Linked DNA regions of Homo sapiens. The protein of the gene in region 2 interacts with the protein of the main gene of each other region in a biochemical or structural test. Each region holds a gene or a part of one and is shown on either strand. Other genes may lie near its edges.

The links.
Region 1: the proteins of TLE4 (region 2) and CUX1 form a complex in vitro, tested with the Homo sapiens proteins (one study listed by BioGRID).
Region 3: the proteins of TLE4 (region 2) and POU2F2 form a complex in vitro, tested with the Homo sapiens proteins (one study listed by BioGRID).

What each region holds. Positions count from the first base shown.
Region 1 is NC_000007.14:101,815,426-101,819,168, forward strand, and holds the start of CUX1 (Homeobox protein cut-like 1), read left to right. Parts: upstream 1-2,200; 5' UTR 2,201-2,214; coding exon 2,215-2,244; intron 2,245-3,743. UniProt on the Homo sapiens protein: May be involved in intra-Golgi retrograde transport.
Region 2 is NC_000009.12:79,570,108-79,573,850, forward strand, and holds the start of TLE4 (transducin-like enhancer protein 4), read left to right. Parts: upstream 1-1,857; 5' UTR 1,858-2,683; coding exon 2,684-2,728; intron 2,729-3,069; exon of another isoform or gene 3,070-3,224; coding exon of another isoform or gene 3,225-3,263; intron 3,264-3,581; coding exon 3,582-3,679; intron 3,680-3,743. UniProt on the Homo sapiens protein: Transcriptional corepressor that binds to a number of transcription factors. Inhibits the transcriptional activation mediated by PAX5, and by CTNNB1 and TCF family members in Wnt signaling.
Region 3 is NC_000019.10:42,090,802-42,094,544, reverse strand, and holds part of POU2F2 (POU domain, class 2, transcription factor 2), read left to right. Parts: intron 1-649; coding exon 650-716; intron 717-2,274; coding exon 2,275-2,476; coding exon of another isoform or gene 2,477-2,480; exon of another isoform or gene 2,481-2,604; coding exon 2,605-2,678; coding exon of another isoform or gene 2,679-2,953; coding exon 2,954-3,288; 3' UTR 3,289-3,743. UniProt on the Homo sapiens protein: Transcription factor that specifically binds to the octamer motif (5'-ATTTGCAT-3'). Regulates IL6 expression in B cells with POU2AF1. Regulates transcription in a number of tissues in addition to activating immunoglobulin gene expression.

The DNA.
Region 1 (3,743 bases), on a different chromosome or scaffold from region 2:
CCTGGGCCACGCAGGGGTCGGGTGTGGGGGGTCCCGGGCAGGTGGTAGCGGCGTCTCCGCGCTCTGTACACTAACCACTACAGGGGCGCTCCGACGTTCCCCCCAACCGGAGTCTTGAAGGCGCTGCGCTCGGCCACCGCGGGCGATCGCGATCCCAGCGGGAGACCCCCCCCACCCCCGCAGCCCTCCCCAGGTGCGCGGTGCCGGGGGACCCCGGGCGCTGCCCTCCAGCGCCCCCTCGGGGCCGGGTCTGTGGCCGGCGCGACCGCGGACTTTGGGGGGGGTTGTCCCGAGGGGCGGGGGTCGCCGGTCGGCCCGCGGAGGGGAGGGGGAGGGCGGCGGTGGGGGGGTTGGGGGAGCAGGGGCCGGGGCCGCGCGCGCGAGGCCGGGCCGCGGCCGCCGCGCCCTGGGGCTGCGACTCCGGCTCCGGCTCGGGCTCGCCATGGCTGCGGCGGTGCCGTGAGGAGGAGTCCGCGTCCTCGGTGGCGGCGGCGGCGGCCGGCTCCAGGCCGGGTTTTGGCGCCGCCCGCCTGCTGCCTCCTGGCGGCTCCTGAACTCCAGCCCCCTCTCTATCAGCCGCTCACTCCGTCTCAATATGTCTCAAGATGGCGGCCAATGTGGGATCGATGTTTCAATATTGGAAGCGCTTTGATTTACAGCAGCTGCAGGTCAGGCTCCTCCGCGCTCGGCCTCGCGCCCGGGGGTGGGGGCTGCGGGCGGTCGCGGCCTCCGCCGGGGGCCCCGGGCTGGCCCAGCCGCCGGGGGGCCCGCGGCGGCGGGGAGGAGGGGGGTGCCGGGCACCGCGGGGCCGAGTCGGGGCCGAGTCCCTCCCGCTCCCCGGCCCCCATTGATCACTCGCTTGATCGGAAATTGATCCTCTTTGTTCAATTCATCGATCAGCCCAAGATGGCGCCGGGAGCCGCCGCCGCCACCACTGCCCCCGGTGTCTGCCCCCACCCCGGGCGCCCCCCCGGGCCCCGCGCCGCCGCCGCCGCCAGCGCCGCCGCCGCCGTTGCCGCCGCGGGACCGGGGAGGGGGCGGCCCCGGCGGCCCGCGGGGTGCGCGCGCGAGCGGGGAGCGGGGAGCGGGCGGCGGGGGGCGGGCGGCGGCGGGCGCCGGGAGGGGGCCGCGGCCCGGCGGTGGCGCCCGCCCGCCCGCTCGCCCCGCGCCCCCGGCCCGCCGTATTCCCGGGGAAAGTTTGTGGGGAGTTGCTGCGGGGGGTGAAGCGCCTGCCTCTCCAGGAGGAGCCGCCGCCACTGCCGCCGGCGCGGCGGAGCTGGGGCTGGTGGCGCTGTGGTGCCGCCGGCTCGGGGGAGGGTCAGAGCGGCCACCGGCGGCGGCGGCGGCGGCGCGGCCCGGCTCCGGCCAGGCGGGCGGGTGGCCGGGCAGGCGCCCGCGCTCGCTACCCCCGGCCGGCCCCGGCCGCCGCCCCCGGCTGTCACCGGCCCGGGCCGCGCCGCCGCTCCGGCACCCCGCGTGTGGCTCCCGGCGCGGACCCCCGGGTTTGTTTACGTCCCGGGGAGCGCCCCGGGGCCACCCGCGCACCTCGCGGCCGCCGCGCTCTTTTGTGTGCCTGTGTCGGTGACGCGGACCTGTTCCTCCGTGGCGGACCCCCGCGGGGGCTCTTTGGGGAAACTTGGCGAGGGGCGGCGGGGGTGCCCCGCGCGCAGTGTCGCTGGGTCCCGGTGTCCCGGACCGCCGGGTGCGGGCGCGGGAGGAGGAGGCTGCAACTTTCCCCTAGGCAGGCCCCAAGCTGTTCCCCCGGGTGCCCGGGCAGTGTACGCTGCCTCCCCGCCGCCGGTCCGAGCCGCGATCGCCGCGCGCCTGGGGGCTCCGGCGGCCCCCGGTGACCTGCGGCGCCGGGTCCCTTCCTTGCGTCCCCTCGGGGCTTCTGCCCTCTCTGCAGGGCCCGCCATGGAGCGCGCGGCGGGTGCGCTCGGAGATGCCTTCTCGGGCCGGGTTCTCGAAAGCAGAGCCCCGGGGGCCCGTTGGGACCGTGGCATGCCGGGCGGTGGTCCGCGCGCGGAGTCCCCGGCGCCGCGGGGGGACCGTGCCGGGGCTCCCCGGCCCGCGCCCGAGTCGCCGCCGTGCCCAAGGGGCGAGTGCCTGCCTGCCACCCCCCGCCCGGAGGAGCGGCGCACCCTTAGGGTCCGCCCCGCACGTGCCAGCTCGGCGCCCGCGGCGCCGGGACAGCCCCGGGACTCTGCCAGGTGGATGTTGTGCGTAGCCGGAGCCAGGTTGAAGGTGAGCGGCGTGTGGGCCAGAAGTCCCGAGGTTGCAGGCGCGGAGGGAACCGGGGATGTCGGGGGGTGCCCGGGTCCCGCGGCTTAGAATGCTCTAGGGCGGCCTGGTGCTCTGGGAGGGGATAGGAGGGTTCCTCAGGGCCCCTGGGGAACTGCAGCTACTCCCAACTGCTAAGGTGTGCGTGAAGATAAACTTGGCTGAACTTTCCTAACCTGGAGGACTGGTGACAGTGACCTACCGCAATACCTTTGGGAGCAAAGCTCGAGATGCAGGCTTGTATCAAACGAAGCGGGTTGGATTAAAACATATTTAAATGGAATCTGACAACTTTAATTGTATATGCTTGTTTTCTGCTCTTGCCTACTAAGAACGATAAAGCCGAGTCATAGTCGTTATGAAATTTCCTGAAATTTCTCGCTTAACTAGGAAGAAGACTATGCGAAATATGTATTTCCGATAAGATTAAAACTTAAAGGAGTTTAAGTATTTATTGACTAAAATAGATTACTCCAAAGTGTCTATTGTGTAAATTAGATTCCTGGATGTAATGAACACAGCCGAATGGCATTTTTGATAAATTGGTCTACCCTGTTTTAGTAAAAATAGCTCCCTTTTACCATAATTTAATTCCTGTGCTTACTGTAAAACCCGTTGTGGAGTTTTAAGGACAAACATTATTATTATTTTTCTCTCTTGTCTTCCTAAATGTGACATCCTAGCTTAATATCAATGAAGTGTCTTTTTTAAAGCATCCTGGCAAAATTGCCTGGAAAATGGATTTGGTTTCTAGAGTTACTAGATTTTAAGAACTCTAAACCTTCCTGTCCCCCATATTAGCTACTTCTTCAGGGGATCAGGGCTCCAGGGTTCCATCGAAAGTTTCCATGTCAGTTTACTTGCACTTTATGTGGATATTAAGAAGAAATCAAAACCAAACCCCAAAACAAAGTCCCTTATTTGAACTTCATTCCTCTTTACTCCTTTGCTTTTGGTGGTTGCTAACGATTTGGCCTTAGATGATTTCCTATGGGTTTGCAAACTTTAGTCGAATACGGAATGTCAAAGTTCAAGTCTCAGGCCAATCTGGTTCTTTCTCTGGGCGGTGAGGAGGCCTTTGGAGTTGGTGTCTGGTTAATTCCCACCGATAGTCAGTGAGTCAATAGAACGAGTTTGGGAGAGAATTCATTAGTTCCAGATTTTTCTCATTTTTCCAGACCTCTTTATACTGAGATTGGGTTGCCACCTGGGGGTAAAGAGGCTGATCGGTCTTTGCAGAGAGAAATCCAGGTTGGAGACGTCAGCGGGTCCAGGTGAGGTTGGGCCGTTCCGCAGTTCTGCAACCCTGGCTCACTGGGTTCTTGTCCCTCGGCTTCCTGGGTCTTGAAGCTGCTGCCTTGGCACAGGAGTGTGTGCTCAGGAAGAGAATTTCTGAAGATTGTGTTTTATTCCGTTTCCTTTTTAGTCCCAAAGGCTTGTGGTATGGAAGTTTCAGTGCTTTG
Region 2 (3,743 bases):
CCAGAACGGAAGGAGGTTCACAGAACGTGCTAGGTTGGACATTAAGTCACCGAGTCATCCACTGAGGAAAGGGATATCATTAAGAAGAATAGTTTTCCACTAACGCCGAACCGGCGGCACCATCTCAACCAACAGGTCAAGTTACAGTAGGCAAGCACGCATAGAAATAAACGTCTAAAACCCAGCCTGTTACATTAGCCAACACTCTTCTTGACTTTTTCCGAATTTTTTCCCTGTCCCCAAGATTAGCCGCTCGCTAGAAAAGACTGCGAGCCTCAGCAGCCTCCCCTTGAACTGGGGCGCTGCCTCCAGCTGGACACGGACTAAGGATGGAAAGGCGCACTGACGGAGGCCGCCCCCATTTCCCAGGCCCCTCCCTAGGGGTGCCCCTCCTCAGCCATGGCTGCCCCTTTCTCTCCTCCTCCAGCATCTGCCCCTGGGGCCACCCCCACCTTTCCGCCATCTCTCGGGCCCGCGTGGCACCCTGCTCTGTTTTTAACGGGGATAAACTTGACTTGCTTCTCCAAAGAGCGGGAAAAAGAGGCGCAGTCTTGGTACTGATCTGGGGGAGGGAACGTCCCAGGGCGCGCAGGGGCGTTTTCTACCCGTGCCCCGTCGGCCTGCTCTGTTCAGTACCGACCGTGTTCGGGGTTCACGTGGCCCAGTCGGCAAAGTTTCTTTGGAGGTCCAGCGTCTCTGATTCCCGGATCTTCAGCCCCACCCGGAGCCCCCACGGTTACTGCCCCCCGCGACCCCCGATGGAGCGTCGGGATGCGCTTTCTCTCCGAGTGCCTCCGGGGGTGGAGGGAGGGAGGCCTGTTTCGGAACTAAATGGCAATCACAGCCCCCGCGGGGCTTGGAGGGACGAGCTCCCCGCCCACCCCGCGGCCCCGGCCCCAGCCAGCATCTCGCGACTCCATTTCTGGCTCTAAACAAGAACGGGGACCGAGTCGCGTTCACACGGAAAATTATGCCGGCTCCAGCGGCGCGTAAAATTGATGTGAACCGAACGAAGTAAGATCAGCGTGATCCTCCCCCTCTTGTCTCAACAGGGGTTTCGGCGCGTTACACAAGGCCGAGCTTGTCTCTTTAAGGAGACATTGGACCCTAATTAGTCCGCATTCCTGGCGCGGCTGCGGAGCGAGGGGCCGAAGGTGTCTGGGTTGGGAGACGGGTGGGCGGGAGGACGAGACTCGGAAGAAGATCTTTTGACCAGCCCCCAGGCTCACCGCTCCCTCCACCCTCTTTATTTTGCCGCCACCACCACCACCACCACCAACACCTAATTCTGAAGATGCAGCCAGGGCAGCAGCAACAGCAGCAGCCGCCGATTCTCCCAGCCCCACGTTACTTTGATTGACAGCTGAACAAATGTTTTCCCGGTTCGAACGCTCGCGCTAAGGAACGTCAGCCAAGGCGAAGCTCCGCCTTGGGCGGGCCATCTCCGCCCCGCCTCCGCCAACCTCATTCCTCTTCGTTAATTGGTCGGAGCTACAGGCGACGCCCGGCCCCCACGTGGGTTTCAGCTGGGTTGGCTCCTCCCCGCTGGCTTGCCATTTGTCAGCAGTGAAATGATGGGCACTAACACAGAACGGCGATTAATGTTCAGCCACCTCTGATTGGTTGGTGGAGACGCCTACCGCAACGGGGGTGGGCGGGGCGCTTGGAGAGCTCGCCAGAGCGCTCGCATGGCGGGCCGGTGATTGTAGTCAATCTGGCCGTATTCTCAGGCAGGGTCGCCCGGGGCGGACTACATCTCCCGGGATGCTGCGCGGCCGCCCCGCGGAAGATTGTGAATATGTATCAGAATGTTAATGATTAGCTGCTGCTAAATTTGGTCAAAGAAGTCACCTACACAGAGCGTGTTGTTAGAGCTGTGCTGAGCGGGTGTTTGGGTTGTTGGCTGCTTTCTTCCCCCTTTCTCACACACTTGTATATTATTTTGAGGTGGTGTTCGCAGAGTTTGAAAGGAGAGAGAATTAAAAAAAAAAGCCGCAAGCGTTTCACTCTTTTATTTTTATAATCCCCTTCAATTTGGGGTTAAAAAAAAGACAAGAAAACAGGAAGGAAGAGAAATAAGGAAATGAGATGTGGTAAAAGAAGCTAAAAGGTGCCTTTTAAAAGATCGTTGCTGTGAAGTGAAAAAAATCTCCAGAGAAACCAAAAAGCACCGCCGAGACCTCTTCCGAACCAAAGGAGTTTGTGTTTGCTTTTAGGGAAGAAGAAAGATCATTCATTCGGAGGAATAACAACCAATTAAAAGACAAATAAAAAAAGTTTGGAGTGGGACGCAGAGCGAGCGAGAGGAGCTGCCGGCGGGCGGTGGGGCGCGGAGCCCGCACTTTCCCGGCCGGGTGAGCGGCGGCCGCGGCGCCGGGCTCGGCGGGTGCGCCTCGGCGGAGCGAACGTCGGAGCGTTGCCTTGGGAGACGCGCGCCGGACAATGCCCGCGGCGGGCCAGTGACGCCCGCGGGGAATGCGGAGCGGCCCGGCAGCCGGCACCCAGCCGCCGCCGCGCGTTCCTGCCGCCCGTGTCACGCGAGACCCGGCGGGGGCCGGGACCGCCCGAGCCGCCCCTCAGACCGAGCCGGCCGCCTCCGCTGCCGCGGCCGCCTCCTCTTCGGGGTCATTAAAGCCAATGAGCCGCGCGCCTCTGCCGAGCGCAGCCAACTAAATCGGCTTGGATGATTCGCGACCTGAGCAAGATGTACCCGCAGACCAGACACCCAGTGAGTGCGGGCGGCGGGGCGCGGGCTCGCCGGGTGCTGGGGGATTCCCCGCGTCGCCCCCTGCGCACCGAGTTGTGTCTTTTGGCCGGAGGGGCGTGGAGAGCCGCCCGAAATCGGCGCCCCGCGCCGGGAGCAGCCCGCCCGCCATCACCCCCACCCCCCGGCGCGGTGGCCCTCGGAGGGGGTGCGGAGAGGCAATTGAGTTGTAGCCATTTTCTTATTGTTGTCTTTGAAGCCCCTGGAAGCCGCGCCGAGCCGTTTGCGGTCCCCGCGCCGCGACTCCTCGAGGGGGGGTGGCGAGCGATGAAGGAGGCGCGACTCCGCGCCCGGGCGGGGAGGGCGCCCTCGGCAGCGGCGCTGCTGGGCTGGCTGCGGTTTGGAAGTGCGGGGCGCCGGCCCCTCGCGCCGCGGGCCGCCGGGGCGAGCGGGCGAACGAACGAGCCGAGAGGGTGGCGGCCGCCTCCCTCCTCCCCCGGCCTGACCGCAGCCCGACGCCATGGCGCGGGTCCCCCCGACGGGCCAGTTTCGATTCCGGGTGAGGAGGGAGTGGGCGCGGCGCGCGGGTCCCTGGGTGCCTGTCTTTGGCCGGGGAGGGGAGACGGGACTCGAACCCTCGGGGTCCGGGGCGCGGGGGCCTGCGGGCGGGAGTATGCGGGGCCCCAGGACCACCTCGAAACCAGCCTCTGCCTGGGCTGTTGGGCGCGAGGAGGGTTGCGGGAGGAGAGTTTTAATCTCTCTTTGCTTGCGTGCGCGATGACCCTCACCCCCCGCTAACGCCGCATAGTAGGTTTTCTCCGTCTCCCTGCTTCGCCTGTGATGTGGGCTAATTAAATATTTTATTGTTGTTCTTCAGGCACCGCATCAGCCTGCTCAACCCTTTAAATTTACAATTTCCGAATCCTGTGATCGGATTAAGGAAGAGTTTCAGTTTTTACAGGCTCAATACCACAGGTAACGATATTGACTTTAGCTGATCCTTCTGTTTGCTTAGCTCTTGTCTCCCCGACAAATACAC
Region 3 (3,743 bases), on a different chromosome or scaffold from region 2:
GAACTTGAACCATGGGCAGTGAGGAGGTAAGGAGTGGTTTTGAGCTGGGGAAGGAGAGAGTCACATTTAGTGAGGTTTCTGGGGCTGATGCAAAGGTGAGACTGGAGGTGGGGTGGCCAAGAAGGAAGCTGATGGTCCCAGAAAATCAAGTAATATGACATCTCAACACCCCGATGCAAAGATATGCATCCATTTAGCCTCGCACTTTAGATCTGCTCTTTCCCTGCCTGGGTCACTTTGAACAGTCTCTCCTGCATTGCTTGCCAACCCCACTGGTAAAAGGGTGGTGTTTGCTTGTCCAGGGAAAAGAGTTTTAGTTTTGCAGAACCAACAATATCAGGAGCATGTGGAGCAGCCACTCTTCCGGTGCAGTCACTTCAGACAGGACACAACCCTGCAAAGACTAGCCAGATGGGGCGGTGTCAGAAGAGAGGTGGGGAGTGTTCTCAATGGAGAATTAGCCCTTCCTGCTTGTGGCTCAGGATCAGCTAGGGCAAGTGTGAAGAAAGCATGTGGAATAATACAAATGCAGCATTGTGCCAAAGCCCCCTGCCCCCATCCTGGGACGGAGGAGTGGGGTCCTACAGGGAGCATCACGGGGGCTGCTGGCAGACAGTGGCTAACCACACCTCCTTTCTTCTCTCCTCAGGTCACACCCCAAGGGGGCGCGGGGACCTTACCGTTGTCCCAAGCTTCCAGCAGTCTGAGCACAACAGGTCAGGGAGGGCAGAAAATGGTGAGGGGGGACTGGGAGGATGTGGCACAGGCTGGAGCCTGAGGTTCCCAAGTGGCTCTGGGTGTCCATGGGCCTCAAGACTGGGCCTGGGGAGTGTGGGTGGGGGAATGGGAGAGACAGTGGGAAGAGGGTAGGACTCACCCCTCCTCTGCAGGAGCAACTCAGCTTTAATCTGCTTCACGATTTCATATGAGAAAAGCATGGGCCTGGTAAAAGGTGAGGCACTTGAGTTTTGTGCCTGGCCTCTGTCATTTTTAAGCTGTGTGAATTCAAGCACTTATTTTATCCTTCTAAGCCTCAGTTTTTATTAAATTATTATGAATGTGTAAAACATAAAAAGATATAAATACATGTATGTAAGAGTGTATGTGTATGTACATATACACACATACATGCATACATACATAGTCTTGTATCCAGAGTTCCCCTCCCTCTTCCTGGGACACGGTAGGTTTATATGTATGGTTATACACCATATATATAATAATAATATAAAATTCGCTGGGTGTGGTGGCTTATGCCTATAATCCCTGCTCTTTGGGAGGCCAAGGCATGTGGATCACCTGAGGTCAGGAGTTCGAGACCAGCCTGGCCAACATGGTAAGCCCTGTCTCTACTAAAAATACAAAAATTAGCTGGGCGTGGTGGCGTGTGTCTGTAATCCCAGCTACTCGGGAGGCTGAGGCAGGAGAATCACTTGAATCCGGGAGGAGGAGGTTGCAGTGAACTGAGATCACACCACTGCACTCTAGCCTGGTGACAGAGTGAGATTCCATCTCAAAAAAAAAAAAAAAAAAAATATATATATATATATATATATACACACACACATAATATATATATGCATAATATATATACACATAATATATATACACATAAAACAACACGTTGCCCCTCCCCAGGCTAGAAAATAGTAAGTGGAGATTTATAAAGTAGTAAGTGCTTGCCTGGCACTGTACTAAACTCTTTCTAAACTGCATTGACTGACTTAATTCTCAAACTCATTTTATGAGATAGGGTCTATTATTATCCCCATTTTCCAGACAAGGGATCTGAAGGTCAGAGAGGTTAAGGCACTCACCCAAGGGCACCACTGGGATGAGACAGAGCCAGGAGTTTCTACCCCAGCAGTCTGGCTGAGTCTGGGCCCTCAGCCCCTGCCAGGTTGCCCATCCCTCAGATGTGGCAGTGTGCCTGGCACCCTTCGCCCCTCCCCAGCCCCTAGAGGGAGCCATAGGGCTTTGTCTCCTGGGCACCCCCGTTTCTAGTCGGTAAAAAAGTGGTTCAGGGCAGGGAGTGTAGAGTGCCAGGGCTCAGCAGGAAGCACCTGCTCTGACTTCCATTGTTATGACAGGGGTCACCATGGCAGAGGCACAGGGAAATGACTCTGGGAAGAGAGGGCAGGGAGGTCTAAGGCTGTTCTGACTGAGGAGATGCTGCGTGAGCTGGGCGGGAGGACAAGTAGGAGCTGACCCCAGGTTCCTCAGTGGGGGACGAGTGGAAGCTGAAGACCCCATCTTTCTGTCTCTCTCTGGCAGTTACTACCTTATCCTCAGCTGTGGGGACGCTCCACCCCAGCCGGACAGCTGGAGGGGGTGGGGGCGGGGGCGGGGCTGCGCCCCCCCTCAATTCCATCCCCTCTGTCACTCCCCCACCCCCGGCCACCACCAACAGCACAAACCCCAGCCCTCAAGGCAGCCACTCGGCTATCGGCTTGTCAGGCCTGAACCCCAGCACGGGGTAAGTGGGTGCACGTGGGAAGCTGTGGGGAGAAGCAGGGTCGCTGCTGCTTCTAGGGTGGGGAGCGGCACCCCAGTTATGTTGGCAGGTCCCTGCCCCTGCTAATGCCTCTGCTTTGCCTCTTGCAGAAGCACAATGGTGGGGTTGAGCTCCGGGCTGAGTCCAGCCCTCATGAGCAACAACCCTTTGGCCACTATCCAAGGTGCGTGCTGCCTCATGTCACACCCATCGTCACCAGCCCTATCCTCTGGGGCCTCGAGCCCTGCCATTGCTGCTCCAGCCATGCCATCCTGCCCCTGCTCACTGCATTGCTTGCCTCTTCATACCCATCTCACCTTTGGGGAAGGTGTGAGGGGTGCTGATGGGGGTCAGTGGGACCGATGGGGAGATGGGGGGCACTCTGGGCAGGATGCTGGAAGGCAAAGGTCTCCCCTGGCCCGGCATGCCCTTAGCCCAGCCTCTCTCTCTCCCCGCCAGCCCTGGCCTCTGGTGGAACCCTGCCCCTTACCAGCCTTGATGGCAGCGGGAATCTGGTGCTGGGGGCAGCCGGTGCAGCCCCGGGGAGCCCTGGCCTGGTGACCTCGCCGCTCTTCTTGAATCATGCTGGGCTGCCCCTGCTCAGCACCCCGCCTGGTGTGGGCCTGGTCTCAGCAGCGGCTGCGGCTGTGGCAGCCTCCATCTCCAGCAAGTCTCCTGGCCTCTCCTCCTCATCCTCTTCATCCTCATCCTCCTCCTCCTCCACTTGCAGCGAGACGGCAGCACAGACCCCTGGAGGTCCAGGGGGGCCCGAGGCAGGGTCCAAACCTGAGTGAGGGCCAGCCATGCCTCCCCTCCCATTCCTCTGGTCCCTGCCTTGGTCCCTTGCCTGGGAAGAGGGCGAGGAGGCCAGTGGTGGGGACGCAGAGGGTCCTCAGAGCAGGAGTGACAAGGGAGGAAAGACCAAAAAAACAACCAACCAAAAAAAAAAAAAAAAAGGAAAGAAACTAACCAACAAAAGAGAAAACCAAAAATAATCACAACAGAAACCAGCTGCCCCAAAGGAACCAGAGGTGAAAAACAAACAAAAAAAAACCAAAAACAAACCAAAAAAAAAAAAAACCCACAAAATCAAACAAACCAAAAAACCAGTCGCGAGCCAGACCTCAGCGTGCTCACCCTCACTGCTACGACGCCAAATAAAAACCCCAGCCAGGGGCGGAGAAGCCTCCAGCAGGTCAGACCTCATGCCACCGAGCCCTGGCTGTGGGACCAACCCCCAACCCTGCCT